3 separate regions of the Homo sapiens genome follow, and regions 1 and 2 are each linked to region 3. The links come from fine-mapping of genetic effects on gene expression. A gene starts in region 3. Each other region holds a variant in brackets. All regions are shown on one strand. Distances are from middle to middle. Region 1 overlaps CEP57 (centrosomal protein 57). Region 2 overlaps FAM76B (family with sequence similarity 76 member B). Region 3 holds the start of CEP57 (centrosomal protein 57).

The links. PIP is the estimated chance that this variant, and not a neighbour inherited with it, causes the effect.
Region 1: its variant is fine-mapped to the expression of CEP57 in whole blood (TOPMed, PIP 0.91).
Region 2: its variant is fine-mapped to the expression of CEP57 in nasal epithelium (TOPMed, PIP above 0.99).

Annotation. Positions count from the first base shown.
Region 1 is chr11:95,819,340-95,827,414 of GRCh38, forward strand. CEP57 (centrosomal protein 57) reads left to right here. Exons shown (of 11, transcript NM_014679.5): 7 at 2,532-2,639; 8 at 3,160-3,237. Among named protein-coding and RNA genes, the nearest start is that of CEP57, 33 kb to the left of the region's middle. The variant G/A (reference allele first, on the strand shown) is at 2,585.
Region 2 is chr11:95,762,227-95,770,301 of GRCh38, forward strand. It overlaps FAM76B (family with sequence similarity 76 member B), which reads right to left. Exons shown (of 10, transcript NM_144664.5): 10 at 6,727-8,075. Among named protein-coding and RNA genes, the nearest start is that of FAM76B, 24 kb to the right of the region's middle. The variant C/T (reference allele first, on the strand shown) is at 4,823.
Region 3 is chr11:95,786,297-95,794,371 of GRCh38, forward strand. It overlaps CEP57 (centrosomal protein 57), which reads left to right and starts at 4,202. Exons shown (of 11, transcript NM_014679.5): 1 at 4,202-4,447. The coding sequence starts at 4,403. FAM76B (family with sequence similarity 76 member B) reads right to left here and starts at 3,486. Exons shown (of 10, transcript NM_144664.5): 1 at 3,096-3,486; 2 at 2,203-2,267; 3 at 1,328-1,382. The coding sequence starts at 3,182. RefSeq lists a silencer at 3,094-3,513 and enhancers at 4,014-4,483, 4,447-5,110.

The DNA of each region.
Region 1 (8,075 bases), 33 kb after region 3:
TAACAGAAGCCACCACATGAGGAAAATGAGCTCTACTCTCTCCTACTTTTGGATTTTATCCCATGCAGTGGCCACCAGATAGAATAGGTGAGGCAGTGTGGATTCACAAAAGCATTGAGTTTATATGTACCAACCAGAACTGCATTTCTAGGAGATATATAGCAAGACTACTGAAGTAAGTCTGACTTACAGACTCAGTAAAATAAAATTTTCATGTTTTTAACTGAAGACACTCTCGTTATGAGCGTATTTGCTCAAATTCCTCCCAGATACTCCCCTGCCCCTTCCAGGGTCTTTTATTTTTATGATATTTGCATGTATCTTTTTTCGTAAGAACACAAGAATCAGGTCTCGATTCCAAGGAGTAGAGCCTCTGCAGTTCAATCTGTGACCAAAGGCCTACAATGTCTTGGGCTCACTTCATATATGTGATTACAGGAATATAAAAGTTATCTTTGTTATGTTGTCTATTTCTTCTAGTGCATCTCTAAATTTATTGACTTATTTTGTATTAAATCTGATACAGTTCCTTCTCAAATATTTACCTTCTGATCAATTTGTAGATTTGTTGTTGTTTTCCCTCAGTGTGCTTTCTGAGTTATATAGCCACATGGCTTAATTTTTGACCAACAAAATTTCTTTGCCCATTTTCTCTTTAGGGTTGGCCACTTCACTGTGTTTCCATTTCCATACTTGTAACAAACAAACTTGTGGGTTGTGCTTTATTATATGCATTGTGGTGTTGAGTACATTATATATGAAATACAAAATTTAGTAAGTTCCTTATTTAATGAATTTTTAAAATTATTTATGGTACTTCTATTTTCTCCTTCATTTAGCAGGCAACACATAGGGACCAAATTAGATGTTGCTGGTAATATGTTACCAGTAAATATTTTGAGTTGATGGTGAATATTATTGTACTGAAAGAACAATGAGGGATAGATGTGTGGTTCCAAGTCTAGTGTTGGGCAAGTTATATAACTATTCAGAGTCTGGATTTTTATCATTGTTAAAGAGTGGTCTGCTGAGGTCAGGAGTTTGAGGTCAGGAGTTTGAGCCTGACCAACATGGTGAAACGCTGTCTACTAAAAATACAAAATTGGCCGGGTATGGTGGTGCATGCCTGTAATCCTAGCTACTTGGGAGGGTGAGGCAGGAGAATCGCTTGAACCTGGGAGGTGGAAGTTGCACTGAGTTGAGATCACACCACCTGCATTCCATCCTGGGCAACAAGAGCAAAAAAAAAAAAAAAAAACAGTGTTCTGCATTTTGCATCTTGGTGTTGGTGTGATCAAATGAGAATAAAAAATAATGAAAGTGCTTTAAAATGTTTTAAAACTGTAGCACAGAAATATACAGCTGCTGGGAAGAATAAATAAACTGGAAGTTAAAATACTCAAAAAAAAGTTCTTGTATACTGTTTACACTCATTGGCATCATAAGTCTTCTAGAGTAGTAATTTCCTGTTCATTGAATTGTGTCTAGTCAATTTACTATATATAAAGCAATGTTAGGTGTGTTTGGAGTGTATAGATGCTTCCTGAGGGTAGAGATTCCTGTATTCCTTTGTCATGGAATAGATTTTTTACCCCAAAGCTGCACTCATGTGGGAAGTATTAGTAATAATCTTAGTATCTGTTTTTATGGAATCCAGTGGTTCTGAATATTTGTTCTAGCTCCATTATAATTTCCTGGGGAACTCTTAAAATACTTTAAAATATGAATTTCCCCAATCTGGAAAGGCCAAAATCATGAGATCTGGACAGGCACCTGGCAGTCCAAATTGTCCTCATAAACTGCAGACAGTTTTGGTACATATAGGCAGATTTGAAACAAACACTATTCCAGACAGGTTTTTTGTTTTGTTTTGTTTTGTTTTTTTAAAAAGGAAAGTTGAAAGTTGGCTTAGTGAAAAGAGCAGTCCTTTTTTGAAATTCTTAGTGCTTGTGGAATTTCTACCATGAAGATAGGTTATTTTTAAATTAGTATAGTTACTCAGCTTCTAGAGAAAAGGGCTTGGTAACATTTGCCTGATAGCTTCCAGTGTTTTTTGTTTTTTGTTATTTTTTTGGATATAAGTTTTCAATTCCTTTTTCTTATATAGTAAGTGCATGGCTTTTTAGAAAGGGAAGAAATGTATTCTGCTCTTCGGCTGTTTTGTGTCTGGTAATGTAGTAGATGCCATTTTTGAAAAGAATATATTTAAGCAATGGTTTGGGGTTAGATACATTGCATTTAACTCGTTAGATAGAATTTATGGAGTAACTACAAATACTGGAGATAATGTGTTCCACGCTGAAGAAGGGACAAATTATAACAGAAGGTCAAGATAAAATGAGAGACTGGTATTTATTTAAAATATTTGACAAACGTTGATAGATTGGTTCAAGACATAGTTATACAGCTGTAATATGTTTTTCAGTTAGATACTACCATTGGTTTTTACAGGCTTTTTACATGACACATCTGAAATCTGAGTCATAGCTTTTATTTCTACAGCATTAACTTGAGGCTCTCATTTTTCCTAGTTGCAGACTGGTCTAGAAACAAATAGACTTATCTTTGAAGATAAGGCAACTCC[G/A]TGTGTTCCCAATGCAAGAAGAATTAAAAAAAAGAAGTCAAAACCACCAGAAAAGGTGTGAAGACAGAACCAAATCAGGCAAAATGCTGATTACTTGGTATAGTTTATGTCAAAACACCCATAAACTGTGTGGTGTACTACAACCTTGAGAGAGTAAATCTTTCATTCTCAATTTCTTCATTCAGAAGGTGGAGATAAGTAATACCTACTCCTAAATTTTTATCCTGATAGTGAGAAAATATATAAGCATTTTGGAACTACAGAACACCATACAAAATTAGCATTATTAGTACTGCATTATCTTGTGCTCTTACAATGTTTTGTGTATATGTATACTGATTTTCTACTTAGAATGTAACTGTTGTTTTGTCAAGTGCTTTTTTCCCCCCAGCCTTTCCTAGGCTAGGATATATGCTAACAAGTACTATTAGGAGCTGGCTTGTGATCATAATGCCAACTATAGATAAGGCAAGTAGTAGCCTAGTAGTTAACTGAAGTTTCAAGTTAGTCATGTATAGTCAGTTTTTATTATCATGTGAATAAAATAAAATTGTTTTCCTTTTCTTTTCATTCAGAAAAGTTCTAGGAACTATTTTGGTGCACAACCACATTATAGATTATGCTTGGGTGATATGCCATTTGTAGCTGGGAAGGTGAGTTGGTCAAACTCCGGATTCTTTTTATACAACATTGATCCCTGAATTAAGTCCCTGCATCTGCAAGTATGTCTACAAATGGAAGGAACATTTTTCTGTGCCTTTACCAGTGTGTGGATCACAGTGATGTGAAAATGAGATGTAGGGAGGTTTTTGGGGATTAGGGAAGCAAGGAAGAGATGGGGAGGATACCTTAAAGTAGATAAAGTATATGTGGAAAGGAAGTGATAAAACAGAGACCCTAAGTTGAAGAAGGTGTTGTTTCAGATAGGGGTCAAGGAAATAAGAAATAGTATGTTTGTAGCATTGGATTTTTAGTATCAATCCTGTTGAGTTACATTTAGATATAGGTAGATATTCGAATAAGCACGTAGCACATTCTGCTTGTCCTCACATCCAGATCATTTCTAGGACTAATTCTCCAAGAAGCAGTCATACGTACACTTGAATCTTCAGTTTCTTCAGCACTTGAATGTAAAGCTGTATTGTCATATATCAAGTACTGAGTGAAGTGCCTAAAACTGTGCTAGTTGACACTACTTTATAAGCTGTTTGTGTTGCTGGTGGTTTTATATTTAGATTCCAACTAGATTGTTATTCTGGCATCTTGGGAAGTAAATGTTCTTCTGAATTTTGTATTTGTTTATATTTATTTATTTTAAACCCCTAGTAAATTCGCAGTGAAATCATGGGGAATATAATAAATTAGTGGTGACAAGCATTTGAAAAAGGTACAGTTGACCCTTGAACAACATGAGTCCGAACTCTGTGTGGGTCTACTTACAGGCAGATTTTTTTTTTCAATAAGTATCTTGGAAAATTTTTTGGAGATTTTTGGCAATTTGAAAAAACTTGCAAACTATAGCTTAGAAATATCAGAAGTTAAGAAAAAGTTGGTATGTCATAGATGCATAAAATTGACTATGTCAATACTAGTGCATTTTATCATTTACTACCATAAAATATACACAAGTTTTTTTTAATTATAATTTATCAAAACAATTTGCACACAGACTACGTGACGCCATTCACAGTCCAGAGAAATGTAAACAGAGATAAAGATGCAGTATGAAATCATAACTGTATAAAATTAACTGTAGTACATACTGTACGACTGATAATTTTGTAGCCACCTTCTGTTGCCATTGTGATGAGCTCAAGGGTTGGGAGTATTCACTTAAAATGCCACGTGACGCTAATCATCTTCAAATGAGCAGTTCATCTCTCCAGTCAATTGTGTATCACAGTAAAAAGTGTTCTCTAGCAGTTCCATATTTTCCATCATGTTTAGCACAATACAGTAAATAATTTGAATAATATCATGGGACCCATATCAAGTGCTACTAATGATGGTGGAAGTGCTCCCAAGAAGCAGACAAAAGTCATGACATGACAAGAAAAAGTTGCATTGCTTGATATGTACCATAGATTGAGGTCTGCAGCTGCGGTTGTCCACCATTTCAAAATAAATGAATCCAGCTGAAGGCCTATTGTAAAAAAAAAAAAAAAAAAAAAAATGATCCCGGCATGTTGGCGTGCACCTGTGGTCCCAGCTACTCAGGAGGCTGACAGAAGAGGATCACTGTAGCCCAGGAGTTCGAGACTGTAGTAAGCGATGATGGCACCACTGTACTCCAGCATAGGCAACAGAGTAAGATCCTCTTTAAAAAATTTTTTTTAAAAAAAAAAGGAAATTGTGAATCTGTCACTGCAGCTACTCTAGCAGGTGCCAAAACCTTGTGCTTTTTGCAAAATAGCTTTTTATCTCATTGAAAATGCAGCTTTTATGTGGATGCAGGATTGCTATAAGAAAGGCATACTTGTAGACTCTAATATGATTTGAGAAAAAGGAAAGTCATTATATGACAACTTAAAAGGAAGGTGAGGTATCTAAAGCTGGAGAATTTAATTCCAGCAAAGGATGGCTTGATAATTTTAGAGGTTTGGCTTTAAAAATGTCAAGATAGGAGAAGCAGCTTCTGCTGACCAAGAGGCAGCAGATGAATCCCAAGATACCATTAAGAAAATCATTGAGGAGAAAGGGTATCTTCCTGAACAGGCTTTTAATGCAGACAGAAGTACCCTATTCTGGAAAAACATGATGCCACGAAGGATATTTATAAGTAAGGAGGACAAGTCAGCACCAGGATTTAAGGAAAGAGGAGACGGGCTAAATCTACTATTTTGTGAAAACACAATCCGATTTACAATCAGGACTGCCCTTATCTATAAAGCTGCTAATCCCTGAGCCTTCAAGGGGAAATATACCCAACTGCCAGTCTTTGGGTTTACAACAAGAATGACCCTTTGAGAACCCTTTTTCTAAACTGGATTTAGAAAAAACATTGATCCATCAATCCTTTGTCCCTGAAGTCAGGAAGTAATTTGCCAGTAAGAGACTGCCTTTTAAAGTCTTTTTAATACTAGGCATTGCCCCTAGCTACCCAGGAGCATGGAAGTTCAACACCAAAGGCATGGAAGTAGTCTACTTGTCCCTAAACACAGTGTGTCTAATTCACCCTCTGGATCAGGGAGCATAAGGACTTCTAAGGCACATTACATACACTATAAAAAGGGTTCTTAATGCTGTGGAAGAGAACTTCAGAGAGAACATTATGAGGGTCTGGAAGGATTACAGTTGAAGATGATGCCATCATTTTTATAGAAAAAGTCATGAAAGCCATCAAGTCTGAAATAATAAATTCCTGTTGGAGAAAACTCTCCAGGTGATATGCATGATTTCACAGGATTTATGACAAAGCCAATCATGAAAAAGATGGTAGATATGGCAAAAAAGGTTGGAGGTGAAGGATTTCAAGATACGAATTTTGGAGAAATTAAAGAGTCAGTAGACACCATGATAGAGGAATTAACAGAAGATGACTGGGATGGATAAGAGTGCTTTCAAACCAGTGCCACAAGATGAAGAAGACAACACAGAAGTAATGTCAGAAAACAAGTTGACATTAGATAATCTGACAGAAGGGTTCTAATTATTCAAGACTGCTTTTGACTTTTTTTTTTTTTTTTTTTTTGAGACGGAGTCTCGCTCTGTCACTCAGGCTGGAGTGCAGTGGCACGATCTCAGCTCACTGCAACCTCTGCCTCCTGGGTTCAAGCAATTCTCCCACCTCAGCCTCCCAAGTACCTGGACAACAGGCACGCGCCACCATGCCTGGCTAATTTTTGTATTTTTTTAGTAAAGACAGGGTTTCTCCATGTTGGCCAGGCTGGTCTCGAAATCCTGACCTTAGGTGATCCACCTGCCTCAGCCTCCCAAAGTGCTGGGATTCTGTAATCCCACTGTAATCCCAGTGGCTGAGCCACTGCGCCCAGCCTGCTTTTGACTTTTACGACATCGACCCTTCTATGATACATCACTGAAACTAAAACAAATGGTGGAAGAATTGGTATCTCATAGAAACATTTTTAGAGAAATGAAAAAGCAGAAAAGTCAAGACAAATTATAGTGTATTTCTGTAAAGTTACACAGAATGTGCTAGCCTCTCCTGCCTCCCCCTCCACTTCTTCTGCCTCTGCCACTCCTGAGACAGCAAGACCAACCCTACCCTTCTGCCTACTCAACAGTGAAGATAATGGGGATGAAGGCCTGTATGGTGATCCAGTTAATGAATAGTAAATATACTTTCTCTTCCTTAGGATTTTCTTAATATTTTTTTCTAACTTTACTTTTAGAATATTGCTTACAATACATAAAACAAAAATGCTTCCAGTCAACAGCAGGCTATTACATTTTAGGGCAAAATTTATTATAGTTCTCAGTTACATAAGTGGGAGCTGAATGATCAGAACCCATGGACACATAGTGGGGAACAACATACACTGGAGCCTGTTTGGTGGGGGAGTTGGTCAACGGGGAGGGAGAGCATCAGGAAGAGTACCTAATGGATGCTGGGGTTAATACCTAGGTGATGGGTTGATCTGTGCAGCAAACCACCATGACACACATTTACCTATATAACAAACCTGCGCATGTACGCCAGAACTTAAAAGTTGAAGGAAAAAAAAATTTCATTATGGCAGAGTTTTGACTACATGGGTGGTCGGTGCCCCTAACCCCTCCATTGTTCAAGGGTCAAGTGCATATTAATATAATCAGAAAAATAACAGAACGAGAATTTTTTAAATTATTGCATATTGAAAGTGTACTCATAGGCAATTAGTATGCTAAATATATATTACAAGTTACGAGCAAAATAGTGGTTACATCGATTGATTTTTGAATAGTGGACCAGCCTTGCATTGATGTAATAAACTCCCACTTGGATGTGATATATAATACTGCTGCATTCACTTTGCTAGCTAACAATAGAAACTAAGATTAGAAGGAAAGCATATGTTTAGCTTAGCATGGTGGTTCCAAATCTGGCTAATCAAAATCAACTGGAGGACTTGAAAACACAAATTTCCAAACCCTAACTCTGCAGTGAGTTTGGTGTGCTGCCTAGGAACCTGCATTTTAAATATGCTTTCTAATAATATTTATGGAGCCAAGTAAGCCCAGCCATCTATTTATAAAGTGGAATAGTACATTGAGATTGTTGGTTTAGTGTTTAAAACAAAAGCAAAATATCTTTGAGAAGTCTATCAGGTTTTTCTTACACACGTGATAGACATGTAATTTAGTGCTTCCTATTATTCCAGGATACAGAAATGAACAATAGTGTCTACCACCTGGATGTACACTGTTTAATAGGTGAAATAGATATGTAAAAGCAATTAAAATATGATAAATGCTATGAGAGAGATGTAAAAAGTGTTATAGGTGATCTGATAATGGACTGATTGATTACCTGGCAGTTTTAAGGAAGCCT
Region 2 (8,075 bases), 24 kb before region 3:
CTCTCAACCTCTTTAGCCCCTCAGTTCTGGTGAGGGAATAAGAATTGTGTCCTGAGTTTTCAGCTACCTCCGTTTTGCAAGTTTCTGAGTGTGGCTCACCTCACCTTGGTATCTATTGGTACCTTGCTGTCTCAATCATGAATTTTAATCTCATATCCTATGATAAGTGATCTGTATGCCCAAGCTGAATTCACAGCCCTATTTCCAAATAAAATGTTTGTTTTTCACTCCTTTTCAAATGCTCCTAAAGCTTTTCTTACTCTAGTACTTTGAGATAAGTATATGGAAAGCCTAGCTATTGAGGTAACAGAAAACGTGCATTTTGTTTTAAAAATAAGTCATATTACAAAATCCTCCTACTTCTTTACTCAAAGGAAAAATTAAATACGGACAAATGCCCTTTTATCCCTCCACTCTATAAAACTACTCACATACTTATAGTCTAGGAAACAGGCCACTTCATTGACATAGATGATCAGAAATTGTGGGCCCATCTTGGTAACCATAGGAGCAGGCAGCTGATGACATCAGAGGCCTGCATTGCGGCTTCTGATTGCTCAGAGTTGCTATGCTGAAGGAAATCAGAAGGTGATGTAAGGAAAACACCATATTAAATACATTTCATTCCATTTGAGAGGCACTTGGAAATGATTTCTAAAATTCTCTAAATTCCTGCAGCCATTTTTAAACCTTCCATTTGAATAAAATGTATATTGCAAAAAGAACTTAAGACAATTTGAAAATAAGAATGCAGACTTCATTTAGCATATATATACACACAAACACATATTATATATATATTTACTGGTTATGAGTTTTGACTGTTAGTTTGACTATAAAAGCACCTAGCTACAGAATGGTTATGCCATGACCCCAGACTAAGTCACACTTGTATTAAAAGTCATTTTAATATAAACAAAAGTTGGATGCAGTAATTATGCTGGCTTGGTGTTTGGTTTTATTTCTTTTATTTTTATTTTTTGAGACGGAGTTTCACTCTTGTTGCCCAGGCTGGAATGCAATGGTGCGGTCTCGGCTCACTGAAACCTCCGCCTCCAGGGTTCAAGCGATTCTCCTGCCTCAGCCTCCCGAGTAGCTGGGATTACCAGCATGTGCCACCATGTCCAGCTAATTTTGTATTTTTAGTAGAGATGGAGTTTCTCCATGTTGGTCACGCTGGTCTCAAACTCCTGACTTCAGGTGATCCACCCGCCTCAGCCTGCCAAAGTGCTAGGATTACAGGCGTGAGCCACCACACCCGGCTGGTGTTTGGTTTTTGTATGAACTCCACTTTTCCCAGTGCCCCACCTTCCTTTCAGCTACTTTCCAGGTTTCTCAGGTTACCTTCTCACTGCTGTTCCACCTCATCGTTTTCAGTTTCAGTCATCACTTTTCAGGTATTTTCTAAACTGTACAGTTTTTCTAGCTGCATTGATAAAAGAGGGGGTCACAACAGAAGGTGAATGGTCCAGCCCTTATGAACCCTTGATGTCCCAGTAGACATTGTTCCATGAATAATAGGGGAGGCCTAATAATCCTCTTGAAGAAAAATTCATGTCACATAGAATGTGCAAAAATGAGCAACATCTACAAAGAACGATCATTTAGGAGGCATTTAATACATGCGATGGCTTGATTCAAAGCCTATTTCTAGCCCAGGGGGTAATCCAAGCCTCAGCCTTGGTTTCATGGCTGCACAGGTTGTGTACTGTAGAATTCCAGGCTTCCAGGGGTGCATTGACAATGAAAAGCTCAATAATGCAGTGCCCATGTCATGTCTCTCTAGGAGACAATGGCTTAGTTGGAGATAGTAGGCTTCTGATTTAGAATTGATGATTTCTTAACCTATTATGTTACCCCTGGGTATACTGGGTGCAGGAACTTCCTCACAGATAGATGAAGGAGGGACCAAATAAATGTTGCACCTAGTGCATCAGTAGGACTGGATTTAGAGGGAAAGAAATGTGCACAAAAAAATCCAGTATGGAAATCTTTAAAGCAACTCCTTAAAATAGTATTTGCAAATTCAAAAACAATCCATTCAAAGACAAAATTATATTTTAAAACTCACTTTTATCGAATGGAAAAAAAAATGTACACTGGAATTGTGAAAAATAAATTGCATCTGAAAATGGGTTACCGTACATAATGAAACATTGTTACAAAGAGTATGAGGATGCTTGCTCTGATTACAGTGACTCCTGTAACAACGTGGCAAGTGAAAATACTGTATTATTTAGTAGTGAAGCCCTCCCCCTAGTGGAAATAGGTAGGAATTTTAAGAAAAAGGGTTAACACTTTTAAATACATTTTATTTCCTCTTAATATTTACAGAATTAAAGAAAAGAGGTGGAGAATAGCTGTAGTGTGGTATAAAGACTTTTCTTACAGGGCTTTTAGGCCATTATAAGAGCTGAGATGTAAAACTATTTTAGAGTTTTGAGTAGAGCAGCTGGTATGGTCTGAATGTTTGCATTCCCTCCCAAATTTATATGTTTTATTTTAATCACCAAGGTGATGGTATTAGAAAGTGAGGCCTTTTGGAGATGATTATGTCATGAGAAATCTGATCCAATGAATGGGATTAGTGCCCTTAAAAAAGAGGCCCCAGAGAGCTGCCTTGCCCTTTCCACCGTGTAAAGACACAGCAAGAAGGTTGTTTATGAGCATGGGTCCTTATCACACACAGAATCTACCAATTCCTTGATCTTGGACTTCCCAGCCTCTGCAACCATGAGATATAAATTTCTAATGTTCATAAGCTACCGAATCTAAGGTGTTATGTTATAGCAGTGCCAATGAACTAAGCAGGGGTTCTCAACCCTCGGCTGAGACTACTGACATTTTCAGTTAACAAATTCTTTATTGCATAGGGCTGTTTCGTGCATTGTCGAATATTTGGCAGCATCCCTGGCATCCACTCACTTGATGCTAGTAGCAACCTCTCCCCAACCCCACCAGTGTGATAATCAAAAATGTCTCCGGACATTGCCAAATATCCCCAGGGGAGCAAAATCACCCTCAGTTGAGAACCACTGGAATAGAGGGATAACATGACATGACATCTTTTAATAGGATCACTCTTTGTTGAGAACAGACTGCAGACAACAGAGATACCAGTTAGGATTGGAGATGACAAAAAAAAAAAAAAAAAAAAAAAGGTCAAACTTGAAGTTAGAGCTTGCAGAACTTTTCAAAGAACAGCCATGAAGTGGGAGAAAAAGAGTCAACAATATCATCAAGGATTTTGGCCTGTAACAACTAAAATTGAGTTGCCATTATCAGAGATGGGAAGATAGCAGAGTGGCTGCCTTGGTAGTTGTTTGGACTGGGGAGTGCAGATAAAGAGTACATCATTTTGGACGTGTAAAACTTGAGAGCCTTTGTAAGACACCCAGATGGAGATACCAAGTTTCATTGAATAGAAATTCTGGAAATTAGGGGGAGAGGTCTAGGCCGTTACTGTAAGTTTGGGAGTCATTAGGCTTATAGGTAATATTAATGAGTTTACCAAGAAAGCAAAAAAAGAGCCCTGAGCAACTCCAACCATTCCATGTAAGGGATAAGAGAAGGAACCAACAAAAGAAACTGAAAAGCATCACGAAAGGTAAGGGGTTAAAAAACGAAACAAAACAAACAAACAAAAAAAACAGGCAAATGTGATGTTCTAGAAGTCATGAACCTTTGGACATTTTTTCTCTTTACACAAAATGGTTTCATCTTAGTAAGTCCCTCCCTAATGTAAACATTTGTGAATATCTATACTTTATTATACTTTCTGCAATGATTTATTTACCTAGCTGTCTCTTCTAGATTATGAGCTCCTGGGAATAAGATTTATCTTTGCATCTTTGTAGTAATTAGCATAGTGACTGGTGCATAGCAGCACATAACACATGTTCAACTGATAATTAAATTTAACAGGAAATTCACCTCCCTGAAATGAAAATGTCTATACAGTAAGATATCACTCATTGAGATTCTCAATTAAAAATTAGCAAAAACTCAGATATAATTCAAATAACTGTGACATTTAAATTATGTCGCATCAAGGATCAAGGACACAGTACCAGCATCTGCCATGTTTGATCCTACTATGAAAGGGATACCAATCCTTGCCTCGACGTCAACCAGTGTATCAGCTTTTGTTTTATATATTGGGACTCTTGATAAGATTTTATTTAAAAAAAAAAGTTTCCATGGCTGAAAACTATGATGCCATTAATCAACCCTAATAGAATTTTCATCGACTGCATCAAGGGACATGCTCCAAAGTTGAAAAGGTAGTTAGCCTTTATATTACCTTATGTATTATTTTTAATTGATTAAAAGTCATATTATAAATCTATTATTATATTATGTAAAGTGCTTTGTGTATCAATACTTTACCTTAATGTTCATTAATAACTCTGTAATTACACAGATGAGGAAACTGAAACTCAGAGATATTAAGTACACCTCCAAGACACCTAGCTAGCAAATGGCAAAGTGGGATTTGAAACCTGACATTACACTAAAAAGTCGTCTTAAATATTTAATAGTGGTCTTAAATGCCTCACATGCACAGCTATGAAATGACAACAAATAATCGCTGTTGTTGTTTTAGTGTGGAAATTGTTTTTGTTAAGTAGGGGGAGAAAGGAAGAATGGAAACAGGAACCAGAATTACATTGTGGCATGATCATAGCCATTACTCACAATGCTGCAAGAAAACATATAAAACAGAAACAAATATGTCACCTGGGAGAACTGTGAGTGGTTTTTTCTTTTTTCTCCTGATTTTTGTGCTGTGCATTTTTTTTTTCAATAAGCATGTATTGTT[C/T]AAATTGAGCGTAACTTGGCAGGCAGGGGTGATGGTGGTAGTGTTACTTGTTATTAAGAAAAAATTTACACAAAAGTTGAATATAGTATAATAAACCACCATATAACTATCACCCAGTTTCAAAAATTAACAACTCACACCCAATCCTGTTTCATTTATATTCTCGTATCTCCCTCCCTATACTATTTTGAAGCAAATACCAATCATCATACCATTTCATTATAAATATTTTAGTAGGTGTCTCTAGGACTCTAAAAAGATAGCTGCAACACCATCATCACATCTGAAAAGTTAACAGTACTTAATTCCTTAAAATCATTACATAACCAGTGTTCAAATTTTCAGTTCTCATACATGTTAAAAATTTTTAATTTCTTGATTCCAGATCCATATCAGGGTCACATATTGTGACTGGTTTATATTAAGTACCTTTTATACTATAGGTTCTCCCTCCACTGATTCCCTCTGCTTGCAACTTATTGAACAACTGTGCCAACTGTATCCTTTTGGTGTCACTCAACATGATCTTCCATCCTTTCTATTTTTGGTTAATTGGTAGATGCTTCGTCAGATTTAGGTTTGATTCTTTTTGGCAAAACTTTATAGGTAGCAGTGTATTCCTCCATCAGAAAGCACTTAAGAATGTGTTTGTGTATTGTCAGTAGCTGCTGATGACCAATCCTTAACTCCATGAGAGGTTGCAAAATAGTGATGTTGCAATTCCATCCTTCCTTTTTCATTAGAATGTTTTAAAGAGAAACTACCCCCCATCTACTACTTACCTACCCAATGGTATAGTTTGTATGGGAAATGCAGGGAATATTAAAATGATAGTTCTCAAAATGTGAGCTCTGGGCCAGAAGCAGCATTACCTGAGAACTGAGAACTGAAAATTCTTAGGCTCCATCCCAGACCCACTGAATCAGAAAACTGGGGATAAGGTCCAGCAACATGTGTTTATCATGCCCTCCAGGTAACTCTGATGTATACTAACGTTTGAGAAACAAGGGACTACACCTGAAGTCTTGAAATGCCCTTGCTAAAAGCTGTTAGCTTTTACTACACTTTATAATACCAAAGTTAGGTTCCAGATTTTTTCCCAAGCACAGTATCTGCCCACCTAGTCTACAAATGAAAGAATCACACCTTCAACTTTTAACTTATCAAACAATCTAGCATGGTACTAGTCATGTTCCAAAGCTTTCAAAAACTTAACTATAGCTTGAAATACTTGCTCAATTAGATGCAAATTTATTTCTTCCAGGAAAAATAACTATTGCACTAAAGTGGTCTGAATGGACAGACAGGAAAATAGTTTCTAATGTTTGGCCTAAACTTCTCTCATGTATCTGTTGTTTCAGGGTTTCATACTGGAAAAAGGGGGTAAAATGTAGATGAAGCTATGTAGGCTCAATAATGGTCCCCCAATATGTCCATGCCCGAACCCTTGGAACCAGTGAATACATTACCTTATATGACAATAGGGACTTTGCAGATGTGACTAGGTTAAGAACTCGAGATGGAAAAACTACGTTGTTTGTGCAGGTGGAGCCAATAATGTTCTCATAAGGTCCTTATGAGAGGGAACAGAGGGAGACACTCTGAGAAGGTATGATGACAGCAGCAGAGAGAGATTTGAGATGCTACAATTTGGGCTTTGAAGATAAAGGTCAATGAGCTCATAGCATGCAAGGAATGCAGCTCTAGAAGCTGGAAAAGGCAAGAAAACAGATTTTCCCCTACAGCCTCCAGAAAGAAGCAATCCTGCCAATACCTTGACTTTAGACCAGTAAACCTGATTTTGGACTTCTGGCCTCCAGAACCATAAAAGAATTAATTTTTGTTGTATTAAGACACTAAGTGTGTGGGAGTTTGTTACAGCAGCCATTGAAAACTAATACAAAGCCTTTGACAAGTTTTTTATTGTGAAATATTGGATCTAGAAAAAAGTACAAAATGTCAACAGTCAGATGTGTACAAGTACAGTATTTCAATAGTCTATACATGTGAACAGCTTAACAGGTTCACTGCAGAATGCATATTTAGACCAATATAATCTAAAAAGGACTGCAATATTCACAGGCTATTAATACATAAATAACTTGAGTCAAAATGACCCTTACTGGTAAATGCTAATTAATAGTGGAAAACAGGCTAAAAGCACAATACACCACACCATAGTATCTCCTTACAGGTCCACATTTAAAGAATATCAGTTTATTATGTCAAAACACTACAGAGATCCAGGACTGGGACTGAATTACTAATTTATACAATTGCAAAAAAATTTAAGTTATAAAATAAGGTCATGGAATAAAGAAGGGTATTTAATTAGGACTAAATACTGTGAAGCCCATGAAAGGGTTTTAGCCTTGGAATTTACAAAGCTAAATTATTAGACTGTTAATGTTAGCTAACACTAAAACTGAATTACCTTCCATTTTAATGTTAGCTAATATTAATATTCAACTTTTTAATTTTGATGTTAGCTAAGGGGAAGGACGAGGACAACTTTCTTTTGTAGTTTCTCCAACAAGGTGTAAGAACTATCAAAAAGTAAAACCATAATGACCACTGTGGACTGACAAATGGCTATGAAACAAGAATATAAAACATTACAAATTTCAAAGAAAGGTAATAACTATCTTATGAATTTAGCAAATCCTGCAAACGTTAAAATCCATGTTAAGGCATTATCTATCATGGTTGAGAGTACTAAATTTAAGAAAATTATTACATGAAGATCCCATAAAAATAAACTGGTTTAGTTTACAAGATTCTAACTGAATCTTTTTGTATCACTTGAAAATTACCCTATATTATGCTTTCAAAATGGACAAAGAATTATTTGGTATTCACTTTATAATGAACTATGAGAACAGTCTATTGAAACACGTCATGTTAAAAAAAAATTGTTTCAATCATGTGTTCTTAAGAAAGCCAATCTTTGATATGACATTCACAATCAATGCTTGTATAAAACAAAACCTTTAAAACTTATAAATTTAGTAACAGTTTTACATGAAGCAAATTTATCTTTGCCCATAAATTATTAAGAGAAGCAACTCACTCTATACAGTGTATCTAGCAATACTTTAAAATCAAACTAAAACTCTGAACTGATAATAACTAGGAGATAAATTCTATTTCAGGCTGAAAACCGCTGGATCAGAATATAGTCAATAACTTCATATAACCTATCCCACCCTACCTTAACCTTTTATAGACAATTTTAAAGACTTTAGGACAATTT
Region 3 (8,075 bases):
GACTTTTAAAAACATTAAATATTTGCGGCATAGCATATACCCAGTGTTGTAGACATATTTCTGGAATTAAGAAAACTCAGGTAAAAAATTTGTTTTCTGTCAAGTTTGTTGCCCTGTCACATGCAATAACTTTTATACCATATTTCTATGCATTCAACTAGTATTTATTTCTAGTCATGTAACTATTACTCTAAGATCGTGAGAAATAGATTTGTGATTTGCATAGTCTGTTAGATAATACAAAAACTACACATAAAAAAGGTTTTAAAGAACGAAAATAAAGGTACATATGTAGAGAAGTCTCATGAATCAAGAATTTGAGGAAACGTCCTTCTACTAATATCCTAGTTACCTTAATGACCATATCATTTATTTAGAAAATGTTAACTTTTCATCACATATAGGTACAAATCATATAAGGAATATATACTGTGAGTTTTCAACTTTGAAAAAATGAGAACAAGCATATTCAACATAAACTATAAAAACATACCTTGATTTTCTTTGATATTCAAAAGATGATTCAGGGCAGTTTAGAGCGTTAAAGTTAGCATTTTTGACCAATAATAAATAATATTGGTATAATATACCTATAATGATTGTAGTATACATATAAGACAATTTGTACTAGGATTGGGTCATGACTTCTGTGAATAAATATCTTTAATTGCGCTGTTTTATAAAAATAGTTCTGAGGAGGCTGTTCTGAAGTGGGCTAAAGTCTGATGATGCAAACTTTATGGATAAGTTCTCCATAACCAAGAATTTGCTATATTTGAATCTCTAAAGAACAGCTTCACAAATTTCACACTGGATTCAATACATGTAAAACAGGTATATAATTTGACTGTTTTTAAATGTTATCACCTTTCCATCAAAGTATCTATAGAAAATGTCTTTCATAAAATATGGTATGTTGAAATATCTAAGAGCATAGCAGTAGTTTTTTTTTTTCGAGACGCAGTCTCGCTCTGTCCCCCAGGCTGGAGTGCAGTGGCAGGATCTCAGCTCACTGCAAACTCCGCCTCCTGAGTTCACGCCATTCTCCTGCCTCAGCCTCTGGAGTAGCTGGGACTACAGGCGCCCACCACCATACCCGGCTCATTTTTTTTTTGTTGTATTTTTAGTAGACATGGGGTTTCACCGTGTTAGCCAGGATGGTCTCCATCTCCTGACCTTGTGATCCGCCCTCCTCGGCCTCCCAAAGTGCTGGGATTACAGGCGTGAGCCACTGTGCCCAGCCAGCAGTACATATTTTTTTAAAAGGTCCAGCTTTATGAAAAATATTAACTGGTAACAATGACATGAAAACATAAGACATACTTACCGTCCCAAATTGCTTCACATTTTGAGCACACTTCTTACAAATTGTGTTAGTTTTGCTGAAAAATAAATTGTATATAGATCATGTTTATGTAGCTTTCTAAAGTAATTAGCACAATGTCAAAATAAAATGAGTCAAAGATTTGTTGTACTTAAAACTTTAATAAGGACCACGGATTTTTTTCAAATATACAAGGATATTTTCAGAGTTGTTTTACCCAAATTAACTTATGACAAATGTTTTTATACATTTTTATTGCATATTACTTTTTGTAAACAAAACATCTTAATGTTTCCTATATAGCTCCAAAATCTTCACACTTGACACTATTACTGCACAGCATTACAATACCAGTGCCTACCTAACCTTCCACTTGGCTACTGTCCAACATTATAATGCCCACACCTATTTATGAAGAAATTATTTGTTCTTTTCTGAGGCTACTTTCTGTATATACTCTCAGAGTGGAACTGTTAAAAATGTTACGTACTACTCCTCTTCTATGTAACAAATTATTAGATTTTCACCTTGGAAGGCAGTTGGTAACACTACAGACCTTTCCTCAGATCCATTAAGGCTTTACCATTTTTTTTTAGTTTAACATAACTGTTTACATTTGCATTTTCATTAGCAAGGCTGTACATTTTCCATGTAGTATTATTCCTTCTCTCATATAAAGTCTAACTGTAAATTAACCACCACTGGTTTTTTTCGCAACATTCTCTCTCCCACCATGTATAAAAGGTTTACAACTTAAAATTTCTGGGGCTAAACCATTTTTTAAAAATACTTTCATAAAAACATGGGATTACAACCCCCAAGTATTCCATAAAGACAACACTTGTCTTTAACAGTCAAAAACTATTCAGTATACAAACCTCTCTTGTTGAAATTCTGATCTGCAGTAAGTACATTTTACAATAGGATGTGCAATCCGACATTCCTGTAATAAGACAATACATTAGTCAGTATCTTTCTGAAAGTCCCAAATCTCACTTTTCTGGTAGAAAACTGTTTACCCAACCTAGTGAAAGTCTAAAACATTTATAAAACCTGGCCCCAACGTAAAGAACTGGATGCTTTATCATATAAGTGGCCAATCACAATATAATTCCTTAGGGAAGGCACAGGTGTCTTTGTCTTTAGTAGACGTGGGGGTATATTACAGACAAATTAAGAAAGCTGTCAGGGCCTATTTCAAGGATTGGTTAAATGTGAAACTACTTATTATTTTGCACCGTTGCTCACAGACAGCATCCAGGCTTTAATGGGATGGGAGGAGCTCCAAATCAGAGCATTCTGTTCCCAAACCAGTCGCTTCGCTTTCCTGGACAGGGAAGAAGGATGCCATCAGCTTTGCGGCTTCGGGTTCCTAGCAAGAAAGTGCAAAAACCGTCCCCTGCCTCCTGGTGGAAGAAGAGGACAGACCAGGCAGAAAACCGAGATGAAAACATCTCCACCCCTGGGTCTCTGCGGCATAGACAGGTGGCTGCCTCACTCAACCCCACTCCTGAGACCCCCAGACGCTGACGGGGCCCGGCACCCTCCTGGGCCGCCTGGAAAAGGGCACGATTCTGCCTCCCTTTCAGGGTCCGTTCCCAGCTAATGTTCAAGCCCCCAGAAAAAGGGGTCCCCGAGTGGGGAGGCGAGGGCTCCAGACTCCCAAACCCCTGAGGCGCCGGCGAAGAGGGGCTGCAGTGCAGCGGCTACCCGGCCCCCTCCGGCTACGGCCGAGGACACCCATCCCGCCCGCCTCCCGGAGCCCACGGACCTTGCAGAGCTGCTGGCCCTGGGAGAGCTCCTCGAAAGGATAACGCTGGGTACACTTGGTGCAGGCGTACAGGGCCGAGGCCGCCATCCTGCTCCTCAGTCTCCTCCTCCGCCGCCGCCCGCTCCGAGGCGGGGCCCTACGGAGAACCCGAGAGCCGCCGCCGCCCGGGCCGCGGGCTCCTCCTCCTCCCCCTCCCCCTGCCTCGCGCCCACCAGGGCCTCGCCGCGAGAGCCCAGGGCCCCGCGGACGACGCCACCGTCTCCCTCCGCCTCCACTTCCGCCCCAGCCCACCCAGTGACGCCGTGCCAGCCGCTCCCGCTTAGGCCCCGATAGCGGCGGAGGGAGACGAAGCGGGTAGGGGGTTGCTGTTTAGCTGTGCGGCCGTGGATCCGCTTCCTTCTCGGCCTCCCTTTCCCATCCCTGATTGGCTGCGAAGGCTATCGCGTCATTCGATGGCTCCTCCCAACTCCCAACTTCCGCGACGCAGGAAGCGCCCACAAAGGGAGGATGTCGCCGGCCAATGACATCCCGGAGCTCTCAGCGCGCGAAATCCGCTTTGAACCTGCCCCGCCCAAAGGTCTGCGGTCGCGGCTATTTCTAACAGCCAGTCCCAGGTTTGGCTGAGAGCGCCCCAATCCAATTGAGCAAATGTTCGCGAAAGGCTCGTTCTCTGCCGCAACTTTTTTTCCCTTGCTTTCTATTGGACTAAATCGTTAAGTCCCTCCTAATCCTATTTGTTATTGGCCAAAAGGTAAATACTTCACCTGGAGAGGCGTCCCCGAGGCAAATTCACGCTCTCTCCGGCGTTTAATCCGAGGGAACTCGTGGAGTGCTTTAACTTCGCCTTCGCTTTTGTTTTATCTCCATTACTCCCTTCAGTTGCCACTGGCGACACCACTACTCGCCCACGCTTCTTACTGGAGGAGGCCCGACCCTCCGTAGAATCCCCGCAGAGCCGGCCTGTAACCCCGGCGTTGTCTGCCCCAGCGGGCCCCGTTACGCGCTACCTTGTGACGTCACCAGGGAAGAGGCGGATTCTCTCCTACTACAGAAAGACGTCTGCTGTTTTGATTGGCTAGGAAAGACGTCCGTTAGGACGTGTTGCCCTTTCTGTGTAAGCTGTGAGCGTAGGCGGCCCTGAGGGGGTGTGTTGCAGGGGTTTCCAAGCCCAGCACCAGCACCCTTGCCCTTTTCCATCAGGGGTTCAGCCTAGGGTCCCCGCTGGTGGGCGGCTCCCGAGTCTTGGAGAAGAGCACGAGAACCTAGACCGCCCCCGAAGTGCGGAGACCCCCTGGGCAGGCTGAAAGATGGCGGCGGCGTCTGTCTCTGCGGCTTCTGGTTCTCACTTGTCGGTAAGAAGCAGTTGGCGCGAGTGGGCCCCACGTCGGCCCTAAGCGCCTCTTTGAGTTTCCTCACGTTTCAGGGCGCTGTCAGTCCAGCTTCTGACGCAATTCTGGAGGTCGGCGGGAATGCCTAGATTGCCCCGCGCTCCCCAAGCTTCCATTCACTGTGGCTGTGTCGAAGCTGCACCCTCTGGCTCCCAGTGAAACTGGGCTGGCCGCCCCTGTTCCCCAGCCCTTATTCACCTTTTGGCGTAGCAACCAACCCCGGTTGCCTAACATTCCCAAGGGCCGGCTGGGATAACTGCCCACTCCCTGGCCTGCAAAAATGTAGCTCTTTTGGTCACGTGGGTTCAGCGGCCCCTCTAGGAAACTCGCCAGATCAGGTGAGGCGCGCCAGTGTGTTTAAGAGACGTTGCAGAATAGTAGTCCGCCGTCTCTCGAGCGCTTACTAGTCGTTGCTTATGCTGTTTCCTATCCCTGCAGTGCCTCCCACTCCCATCCACATTAACTTCGTTGTGTGATGCTCGTAGCCAGAACGCGCGCTTCCTGTCACCTAGAATTACTGGAACTTCAATGTGGAAATGCCCTTTTGGAGAGGCGACAGGGGGAATTGATTTTAAATATTGTTTTCGCCTCATCAAATGTCACCATCCAGTTTAGTTACTGGTATTCACTGGTATTTCTCAAATTGGAGTGTCGAATGCTTAGGTTTTTGAAAACCGCGGCATTGGAAAGCTTTGATAGGAAGTAAATGTTGGAGCTCTTATTTCTCCAGTTAGCAAATGTTCGATGCCTGGTATACTGTTAGGGTCCAAATGAACAGAATAGAAACCCTGCTTTGAAGGAGAAAAACACTGAAGAGAAACTACACGTAATTAGTGATTACTGCGCAGTATAGTTTAGGAAGTGCTACCGTAGTAGAATAATCTAGAGGGGAGTGATTAACAGTGCTTGGGTAGGCTAGAGAAGGTTTCCTAGAAGGGAAGATGGAGCTAGTTGCGTGTCGAAGGAATTGTGATTGCTTGTCCCAAGAGTAGAGAAAGGAGAAAAAGGCAGTGCGGGAATTTTGGAGTATGTGCTAGAACAGTAGGTGCTTTTAGGAAACTTGAGATAGTTCGGAATGAGAAGAAGTAATACGGAGGTAGAGCTGGATGAGGTGAATTGGAAACGTAGGTAAAAACGTGAAAAAAGAAGGATGGTGAGGGAAGGAACTAGAAGAGTATCAGGGTAAAGTTATTTTCTAGGATCTAGGGGGAAAGAGTTGGAAACGCTAAGAAAGCCTGGTCACCTTGGAGAAGTCAGTTTCAGCTTTTGGAGACTTGTTAGAATTTGTAATAATGGGACTAGAAGTATTACAGTGTTTCAGCCGAATGGGAATTAGAAGTTTGCAGAGAGGTCTGGGGAAGTTAAGGAGAAGTAAGGAAAGCAGCAATTTAAGGTTATTCAGGATTAGGTCAGTAAAAGAAAAAAGTAAAAAACTATTGGAAGTGTCAGCAGATGGATGAGATTTTATAGGAGATGTGATTAAACTTGGGAGAAGAGGGCTTTTCACGGCTCTCAAAAGTTAAGCACTTGGAGACCGAACAAGGAATACTCTTACAAATGTTGAATTGAGTCTGGGTGCGTGGCTCATGCCTGTAATACCAGCTACTAGTGAGGCTGAGGCGGGAGGATCACTGAGGCTGAAGTGAGGTATGATAGTGCCACTGCTCTCCAGCCTGGGCGACAGAGCGACCCTGTCTCCATAAAATAAAATATTAAATAAACGTTTAATTGAGCTGCACTATGCCAAGGACACCTAGGTGAGCATTGGCACTGGGATATAGTCAGCTGTTAATACTTATACGGTACCCTTGACAGAAATACCAAAGACTGTTCATTAGGAAAGCATATTTTTTTTGTGCTAAGCTCAGCTTTAATAGGATTCTAAATATCAAGGGTACACTAAGAATATCTAGGAACCTCCACAAATCAAAGTATAACAACCATAACTCAATCTGCTACATCAAAATGTCTATTTTGGAAGTTACTGTTTCTCAAAACAAAAATGACTAAATTTAGTTGGTTTCTTGGTGCGTAAGAAAACGTCCTGCTTAGATGTCCCATCAGAAATAAGGCTGCCATTTCCAACAGCGTTGGAAAAGCACTTAGCTTATCAAACAGCTGATCTTAACAGTAGGCAACATTTAAAAAAAAAAAAACTTGTTAAAACTATACCATGAACTGAGAACACAACTCGTATTCAGATTTCACGGTTATGAAGATTAACAACTGTTATATTCAACTGTTTTCGACATTGATAAACTCATACGGAGCTAGTTATAAGTACATTGAGATGCTTTACAGGCAAAGATTTTTAACAAGTAGATTCATAAATAACCGTCTTTGGGAAGCAGTGACCATGTAAATCTCAAATGTGAACAGCATGGAAGTAGGGCGATAGGTTTCAGTTAGGTTCTAGGTAACGTTTATTGAGTGATTGCTCTGGAATTGATAAACTTCGACTGGTGGAAAAGGCAGGAAAGCAACTATGATTGGGCATAATGAAATTAATTCCATATGGAGGTATGGGCAGCATTGTGTTGAAATACACAAGAATGTCTTTCATGTCAGCCTTGTAATATTTTCACAATAACCTTGGTGATTAATGACCTAATCTCTTGATTTGTCCCTCTGACTTTTGGTCCTTCGACCAAGCTGCACAGTAGCTCCATATTAATTTCCCTTAAAAATGTTTTATGGCTATCATACATTTTATAATATTAAATATAAGATTTACTTTTTGAGAATAATAAAATGAATACCTTCATGTTCCTCTGTGTCTTCTTTCTCCTTCCCACACCCACCCACTACCACGTATTTTAAGATTATAATGTATGGTATTTATATAGGACTACCTGGCAAGGCATAATCCTTAAAGACCCTTTTCATGCATTAACTCATTTAATCCTCACAATAACCTTCTGAGATTGGCATTAATATTTCCTTTTTCAAATGAGCAAAATGAGGCACAGAGAGGTTGAGTCAAAGTTCTCTAGCTAGTAAATGACAGTATCTTAATGGGCTTTGGATTTAATGGGTTTTGCTGTTCATTTGTTTGCCAGATATTAGAAACAATCTTGTATTCATTGTTATATGCTGTACATGGCAAATGTTTCTCTAGAGTGCAGTTCTCGAAGTATGGTCTCACAACCCTTGGAGATCTCCAAGACCCTCTCAGAGTCTACAAGATCCTTCTGTAATGACCACGTTTGTGGTAGACTAGATCTTTAATAAGTCAAACAAAATAACATATCCAACAGAGCGAATGCAGAACTAGATAAGAGAATCCAGCATTCTTTTTTTAAAGCAAACATTAAAGAGATCTGCAGAAATGTAAAATAGTGCCATTCTTTTCACTAGATCTTTTAGAGTGTAAAGGGGTCCTGAGAGAAAAAGTTTGCAAGGGGCAACTCTAGGGCAGTGATTTTTCTTTTTTTTTTCCAGACCAGAGGCTGGGCTCTGGATTACAGCTCAGTAGTGGGTCATGGAATATGTACTGTGACTCAACCCGTATCATTTTCAAGAAAGAAGAGAGAGAAAATCGTTCAGCAAATATAACTGAATGAATTATCTGGTTCACAGAGTATGTGCGTCT